Homo sapiens: one gene and its partner. The protein of the gene in region 2 interacts with the protein of the main gene of each other region in a pairwise test. Each region holds a gene or a part of one and is shown on either strand. Other genes may lie near its edges. The genes, in order: HEYL and LAPTM5.

The links.
Region 1: the proteins of LAPTM5 (region 2) and HEYL interact in a two-hybrid assay, tested with the Homo sapiens proteins (one large-scale study listed by BioGRID and IntAct).

What each region holds. Positions count from the first base shown.
Region 1 is NC_000001.11:39,636,652-39,640,891, forward strand, and holds the start of HEYL (hairy/enhancer-of-split related with YRPW motif-like protein), read right to left. Parts: upstream 2,993-4,240; 5' UTR 2,975-2,992; coding exon 2,895-2,974; intron 1-2,894. UniProt on the Homo sapiens protein: Downstream effector of Notch signaling which may be required for cardiovascular development. Transcriptional repressor which binds preferentially to the canonical E box sequence 5'-CACGTG-3'.
Region 2 is NC_000001.11:30,750,997-30,754,804, forward strand, and holds part of LAPTM5 (lysosomal-associated transmembrane protein 5), read right to left. Parts: intron 1,365-3,808; exon of another isoform or gene 1-1,364. UniProt on the Homo sapiens protein: May have a special functional role during embryogenesis and in adult hematopoietic cells.

The DNA of each region.
Region 1 (4,240 bases), 8.9 Mb from region 2:
GTTCTATACTGCACTTCCACATCCATTTGTCTAATTTATTGCACAATAGCACTGTAAGTGAAGTATTTTTTGGGCCATTTCACATTTAGGAAAAATAATCATTTTACAGGTGGAGTGACAGAGACACTGGAGTTAAGAATCACTCCAGTAAGTCCAGTCTTCACACTTCCGGTCTTTTCATTAGACCATGCTGTCTCATAAATATGTTGCCCCCCAACTGAATGGTGACCGCTTTGACAGCAACGTTTATTGGAAGTTACTTTGTGCCAAAGCAGGGAGCTATGTAACTTTATGTATGTTACTTCATCAAACCTTATCCTGCGAGGCAGGAGTGCTAATGTATTCCCATTTTGAACGCGAGAAAACTGAGGTTCAGAAAGGGGTAAAAGTCACTGGCCAAAGTTAATGGTGGTAAAATTCAAACTCAGGTCTATCTGACTCCAAGACCACCACCTTATATTGTGCAGGAACAGGACCCTGATCCAGTGTCTGACATGTGGCAGGTGCTCATTAGATGTTTGCAGAGGGAGAGGAGAGGCTGTACTCTCAGTTTGGACTCATCCTGCGTCATGGGGCCAGGTTGAGATGAGAGCTCTGTGGGTGAGTTTCACAGATGTGGCAGGACTGCCACCAGGCAGATGCCACAGTGATGGTGGAACACACCCTGCTCTTTACTCTCACGTTTCTGAGTGTGGGGGTTTTGCGCCCTGCCCCTGACCCCGAGAGGCTGGCTGCCTCCGTCCTGCGGCCTTTGTCAGTGTTTATCTGCTTTCTTTGTACATGAAGCTCTTCTTCCCTGAGAGTTCCCTGAGGGCAGAGGCTGAGCAGGATACATCTGGGCCCCCTATGCCCAGCCCAGGGTCTGGGCCACAGCAGGCATCGTTCAGTGCTCCCTGAATTGAAGCATTGATGTCTGCTGGGGGAAGGGCCCTTTGGTGAGTGCTACAAAGGGGCATCTATAAGTCAGCCTCTGCCAGATGTCCAGCTGCTTTCTCTCCTCAGAGGGGTCTGCTCCTCTAAGAACAGTGTCTAAAAATGGGCTCTGTATATATAGGAAATGCTGTATGTATAGGAAAAAACTGCCCACTGATCCTTTATGCCTCATGTAAGCAGTTGCCCAGATGCTACTATCTTCAAGAAGCCCTCCTTGCCATCTTTGATTAAGAGTGACCTCTCTTTGCTTAAGTGCCCTCACAGCCCACAGTCTGTCTCCTTTCCATCCTGTCCATGGTGTTTTTATGACCTGGCAGGTCACTGACTGGGCTGCAAACTTGTGGAGGACAGAAGCCAGCTCTGATCAACCTAGTTCTCTGGCATCAATTTTGTGCCTCTGATCTATGAAGACCCAATGCCATTGAATTTGAGACCCCGCTCCACCACCACCACGTGGTGCTGTGCCCTTTCCTGGCCCTTAACAGGCACAGGCTAAGATAACTGCTTTTCTAAATAGCAGTTTCTGCTAAACAATTAAGAAAGGCTAATACGTTGCATAGCGAGTTGTGTTATACTCCCTAAAAACAAATGTACAGGCTGCAAGAGGAATATCTATTATGGCATTTTCCTGGGATTTGAGACTGAGGCAGGATCCTTGGATCTCAGAAAACTGGAGAGCACTAAAATTACAAAATGTCCTCAAAAACATCCCTAAGAATTAACTGGGCCTGGCTCACTGGCTTATGTCTGTAATCCCAACACTTTGGGAGGCCAAGGCAGGAGGATCACTTAAGCCCAGGAGATCAAGGTTGCCATGAGCTATGATCATGCCACTGCACTCCAGCATGGGCAACAGAGTGAGACCATGTCAAAAAGAAAGAAAGAAAGAATTAACTGAATTCCCCTCCAATTCTGTTCTAGAGAGTCAAGTCTAGATGAGCCAAGAGAGATGAAGTATATCCCTTTCTTTTCCACTGCTGTCTTTGTTTTACTGATGGGGAAACTGATGACAGACTCTGTCAGGGAAACCAATGGCCCAAGACCACATAGTGAGTTGGTGGCAGATTTGGGGCTGGGACCCAGGTCTGCAGACTCCCAGTCAGCCCTGCAGCTCTTTCAGGGTGCTGGGAATCACATGGTGTGTACCTAGGCATGTGCTGTGCTAAGCCCTTGACATACTTTGCCTCATTTGGTTTTCCCAATATTTCCATGAAGTTGGTTCTATTATTCATGCTCATTTAACAGATAAGGAAACTGAAGCTTAGACAGTTTACAGAACTGCGAGGTAGCAGAACTATACAAGCGCAGTTTGTTCGACAGGTTTGAAGCAGGTCAGACTATCTACCAGGAGCTGAAAGACACTGGCAGTATGGGGGCACGATAGGAGGAACATTGGAATTAGAGTCTAGGCCCTTGCAAGTCGCTTATTATTTTCTTCAATACTAAGTCCCTAAATCCAAACTCCAATTTGCTCAAAGGAGGACAAATTTTCTTCTTCCTGAAATAATTTGTGGACTACATGAAAACTGCATCCAAACTAGGGTAAAATTGGGAAAGGATGGGGTTACTCTGCATCGTCAGCAGATTCCAGACAGGGGCCAGAGTACCATCAGTCTATGAGAGTTTTCTAAGATCTCCAGGGAAAACCTGCCAATGGCCTCCCCTAGGCCACTTCAACAGATAGATGATAACCCACTAGCCACCTGATCCCCCGAGCTGAACTCTCCCTCCCTGCCAGCATCCCCAGCCCTGCACGACCGAGAGCGCGCAGGATCCAGGCACTCGTGCGTGTAACGGCACGGCCCGCACACGCCCCCTACGCCGACACCTGTGGCCCCCGCGCTCACCTGCCTCTGCCCAGGCGGTGCTGGAGGGCTGGCCCGCCTGCTCGGCGAGCCCGTCGGGCCGACCCCCACCCCGCTCGCCCTCCGCCTGCTCGGTCCCCGCATCCCGGCCCTTACCTCAGCTGGCCCTCTTGGCCCACGTCGATGGGTCCGTCGGACTCCCCGTCGGAGCCGCTCGGCTCCTTGGGTCGCTTCATGGCGAACGCAGGCTGCCTGGTCTCAGCCCCGCGGCTAAGGCTCCCAGTCGGGAAGTCAGGCCCCGCCCCGGCCCCGCCCCGGCCCCGCCTCGGGGGCGCCGCCACCGCCCTTTCCCAGGGCCCTTTCCTGCGCCGCAGCTCCGGGCGCCCAGGCGCCCCCTCGCCCCCGCGGTGACGCGCCGCCGAGCCGTGGGAAGGCCCTAGGCGGTCGCCGCCTTCATCGACGGCTGGGAGGTCCGGCTCTGCTCCGCTGTCTCGGCTGCCGCGCGCTGGGTGGCCTTGGGCAGGTGCCCTGGGAGGCCCCGCGGGGAAGCCAGGAGTCCCCGTCTGTCCCTGGGTCGCCTGGGCGCTGCTGGCCTGTAGAGGCGCCGCTTCGATGCCCGGGATTCCGCAAGGGTCAACCCTGCGCGCTCCTGCCTCCTGGTGTTCTGGAGGCAGCAGACACATCAAGTTTGTCGAAGTTAGTCGTGGTGGTTGTGGCCTGATCCTCAGCAAGAATTCCCCAGCAGCAACTCCATAGGGGCCCAAAGCAAGTGGAATAGTGTGGTGGGGGCAAGGGGAAGACACTTACACTTCTGAGAGGTGGCAGTCACCCCCAAAAGGGACGGCTGAAGTTGTGGCCACCGCATCTGAGAAAGCTGGGCTCTGGCCGAGGTCCCTAAAGGCCTGGCGTGGTGGCAGTGGTGGGTTGTCCCTGGGAATCAGTTCCCAGTTCACCAGAGGTCGAGTTGTCCTGGGCGGCCAGGAGGCCAGGAAAGGGCTCCTTCTAGACGCTATGGCAGGGCCTCAAAGTGGGAGAAGGAGAGGAAAAGGGAAGATACCTTCCAGCCTCTCTTCCTGGGGCCTCTGCTTCTGGCAACCCATCAAACTGTTCACTCAGGGAGGGCTCTAGCTGCCCTGTCCTTAGGGGGACTTGTGGGAAGTTCTCAGATTCACCGGTCATCCTCAGGCGCCCAGTACCTCAGAGAAGCTCCTAAGGCTCCAAAGGAAGCTGCATGAGAGCATCCTGGAGCTGGACTTCTTGGGCAGGGAAGAGGAGATAGAGGAGGTCTTGGTGTGCTGGGTTAGATATGAGAGGTCTTTTCCTTTTTACCCGCCACCAGGTCAGGACCTGAGGGAAGCCACCCCTTCAAGTGGGAGAATCGGGTTGGTCATCTGAGAATAACTGTGCTTCCATCCCCACAGCAAGGCCTGCTTGCTGGGGGACACTTGATTACTTGATGGGAAAGAATGTTCCTGTGCCCCCGTCCACACACATCCACAGAC
Region 2 (3,808 bases):
AACGCTCGCCTCACAGTGAGCTCAGAGCGAAGTCCTGGTTCCAGGCTGATGCTCTAGGCTCAAAATAAAAGCCTCACTTCCTGGAGGCCTCGGGGCCAGGTTGGCAACAGAGAAGTCTCGGCCAGGCCAGGCTAGGCCCTTCAGCCACTCTCTGGGTGGGATGGGCCATGGGGGCCTCCTGCTTTTAGAAGCTGGGGTTCACACCCCTGAGGTGAGGAGAACAACTCAGTTCTGACACTGAGGAGGGGCTACAACTCCCACCCTGCCCCCACCGGCCTCCTCACCCCTCCGTGAAGCGCACAGAGCTGCAGTGGCAGAGAACGTGGCCTCTCTGTCCAGCCCAGGGGCACTGGACATAAAGGTGGCAAGTTCTAACAGATTCTCACCCAGGGTTTTCCCCACCTGGCAGTTTGGACCCATTTTTCAACCCCAAACAGATGAACTTTCAACAGAGGAGTGGGGCCAGGCACTATGGCCCACGCCTATAATCCCAGCACTTTGGGAGGCTGAGGCTGGTGGATCACTTGAGGTCAGGAGTTCAAGACCAGCCTGGCCAACATGGTGAAACCCCATCTCTCCTAACGATACAAAACTTAGCCGGGCATGATGGCACACACCTGTGATTCCAGCTACTTGGGAGGCTGAGGCACAAGAATCACTTGAACCCGGGAGGCAGAGGTTGCAGTGAGCCAGGATCACGCCACTGCACTCCAGCCTGGGTGATAGAGCAAGACTCAGTCTCAAAAAAAAGGGGCGGGGGGCCTTGTGTTCTTCTTCCACAGCCCACTTCAGGCACTCACCTGCTAGCCCTCCACCCGGCTTCGCTAGGGTCTCCTCCAAATGATCACTTTTGAGGCAGGGACCACTGGCCCCATTTACAGATGAGGAAGGCAAGGCTCAGATAACAAAGGTGCCCGCCTGCTCAAGTCACACTGCTGGTAAGTAATGGAGATGGGCCTGTGTTCCTTTCAATCACAAATCACTGCCCCCAAAGTGGAGCAGAGAAAAGAGCCCCAGGAGTTCTAAGGAGGACAAATCAGGAGAGCTTCCTGGAGGAGGAAGCTTCCCGTAAACTGGACCATAAAGAAGAAATGAATGGTGGGAGGCTGGATGAGGGCAGGGCCTCCCAGACAGACACACCACCCCAGCCATGGGGCAGGGAAGGAACTCATTTGCCCACTTTCTGGATCATTCCACACACCTGTGTGCCAGCAGGGGGACCTGAAGCAAGCTCCTGCCCCATCTCTCCATGTGTCCTGGAGCAAGTAAGGGGCCCTGCTGGACCTGTTTTCCCATCTGCAAAATGAGCTGATAGGCCGAAGAGAGATCCATCTTCTTAGCTCTGAAGCTTGTAAAAGCAAAGGACTCGGGCAGGTCCCACCCCTGGGGACCTCTCCACCCTCCTCCCCGACACACCTCGTGGCCACCCCTCCTAACCCAGCTTGACAAACCTGCTAGGTCTCTGAAGCACTGCAGGGTCCTTCCCCTCCAAGCCTGTGTCATGCTACTCCCCCCGCCCAGCGTGACCTCTTTTCCAAGGTGCCCAAGCAAAGCCCTACTCATCCTTAAGACTCAGACCTCCTCCAAGAAGCTATTCCAGAATCCCAACCTCCAGCCCTACATCTGTGCCCCCATCATAGCCAGCAATGTCATCCATTGTCCTCGTCGGTTTTTCCTTGGCAGACTGGCCCCTCAAGGGCAGAGGCCGTGAATGAGTCAGGGCTGTATCCCGGCCTGGGGCTGGGCACATGGGTGAACTTACCTGCACGAGGTCAGGGCAATAGAGACTCCTTCTTCAAATACTATGATTTGAATGCTTTACCTTTTTTTTTTTTAAAGAGTCTCACTCTGTCAGGCTAGAGCGCAGTGGCGCGATCTCGGCTCACTGCAACCTCCACCTCCCAGGTTCAAGCAATTCTCCTGCCTCAGCCTCCCGCGTAGCTTGGACTACAGGCTCCCGCCATCATGCCCAGCTAATTTTTTGTATTTTTAGTAAAGACAGGGTTTTGTCCTGACCTCAAGTGATCCACCCGCCTCAACCTCCCAAAATGCTGGGATTACAGGCATGAGCCACCGCACCTGGCCGTACTTTTTTTTTTTTCCAATTTAAAAGTAGTATACTTGAGCCACAAAGTAAAGTACCATTGGATTATAACCCAAAGCATACAGTAAAGATCCCTGGGTCCCTGTAATATAAATAAATCATTTATTTATATAATAAACTGGGAGTACAGACAAATCTCCTTGAGAAATTCCAAGTAATTTATGTAGCTACTCTGCCCTCAAGGAGGTGGGGCGGAACTCCCCATTCATCAAACTTGAGTTGCTTGGAGCAGCATAGTGACTTCCTTCTAAAACATACAGCATGGAAAGGAGAAAAAAAGAGTAACTTTACAAAGGAGTAACCTCAGCCGGGGGCTCAAAGTCACCAGCAACAGTGGTAAGTCAAGTTGGCAGAACCTTTTCTTAGTACGATGTTCTGAGACTGGCACATCATCTCTGTGGTCTTCCTCCCAAAAGCACATTCCCAGACTAATCATGAGAAAACCACCAGAGACCCCAGTTGAAGAACATTTGACAAAATGCCTGACAAATACTCCTCGAACTGTCAAGATTATCAAAAACAAGAAAAATCTGAGAAACCATCATACCAAGAGGAACCTAAGGAAGTGTGAAGACTAAATGTAACGCGGCATCCTGGATGCAATCTTGGAACAGAAAAAGGATGTAAGAGGAAAGCTGGGGAAATAGGGGTGAAGCACTGACTTTAATAACAGCCCACGAATATTCATTCACCCATTGCAACAAACGCACCACACTAACGTTGAGACGTTAGCAATAGAGGAACTAGGCATGGGGGACGCAAGAACTATCTGTACTGTGTTTGCAATATTTTCGTAAATCTAAAACCGTTCTAAGTACGTGCTCATTGTACCAAATATGGAAAATACAGAAAAGTAGAAAAAATAGAGCTTTCACTATCCTAGAACCCAAATACATTTCCTCCTCGCCCAGTTTTGACGTATCCTGTTTTGACACTGTTGAAATCATAGCAGGTGTTAAGTTTTTTAACCCAGACAATGCATTTCTGACAGTGGAATTCCGGGCACTCTGGGGAAGAGGGGTCAGGAAGAAAGAGATTTCTGGGCAAAAGTGTCTTCTGGGGGTGTCCACTTTCTACCATCGACTTAGAACGTGCTTCAGGTTGACAAAAAGCCAGGACCCAAGAGACCCAATTTAAGAAATTTCTCTAGACTGGGCTCGGTGGCTCATGCCTGTAATCCCAGCGCGTTGGGAGGCCAAGGCAGGAGAATCACTTGAGGCCAAGGGTTTGAGACCAGCCTGGGCAACATAGTGGGACCCTGTCTCTACAAAAAAAAATATTTAAAATTAGCTGGCCATGGTGGCATGCGCCTGTGATCCTAGCTACTCAGGAAGCTGAGGTGGGAGGATCTCTTGAACCCAGGAGTTCAAGGCTGCAGTGAGCTGTGATGGCACCACTGCATTCCAGCCTGGGTGACAGAGCAAGACCCCATCTCTTAAAAACAAAAACAAAACAAAACAAATCAAACCACAAAAGATGGGCAAGTTACTGAACTTTGAAAAAAAGAATAGATTTTTTAAAAAAAGAAAGAAAGTTTGCTGGGTTCCCAAAGTGTGCAAGTTTGGGTGACCCAGAGAATCCTCTACACAAACCCACTGACATCCTGAGGAAGATGCCCGAGCCCAAAGCTACGGACCAGGCTTCCCTCATGTAATAACGCCCTCATGACTCAATAGAGCGTGGCACTGTCTCAGGATGGCAAGG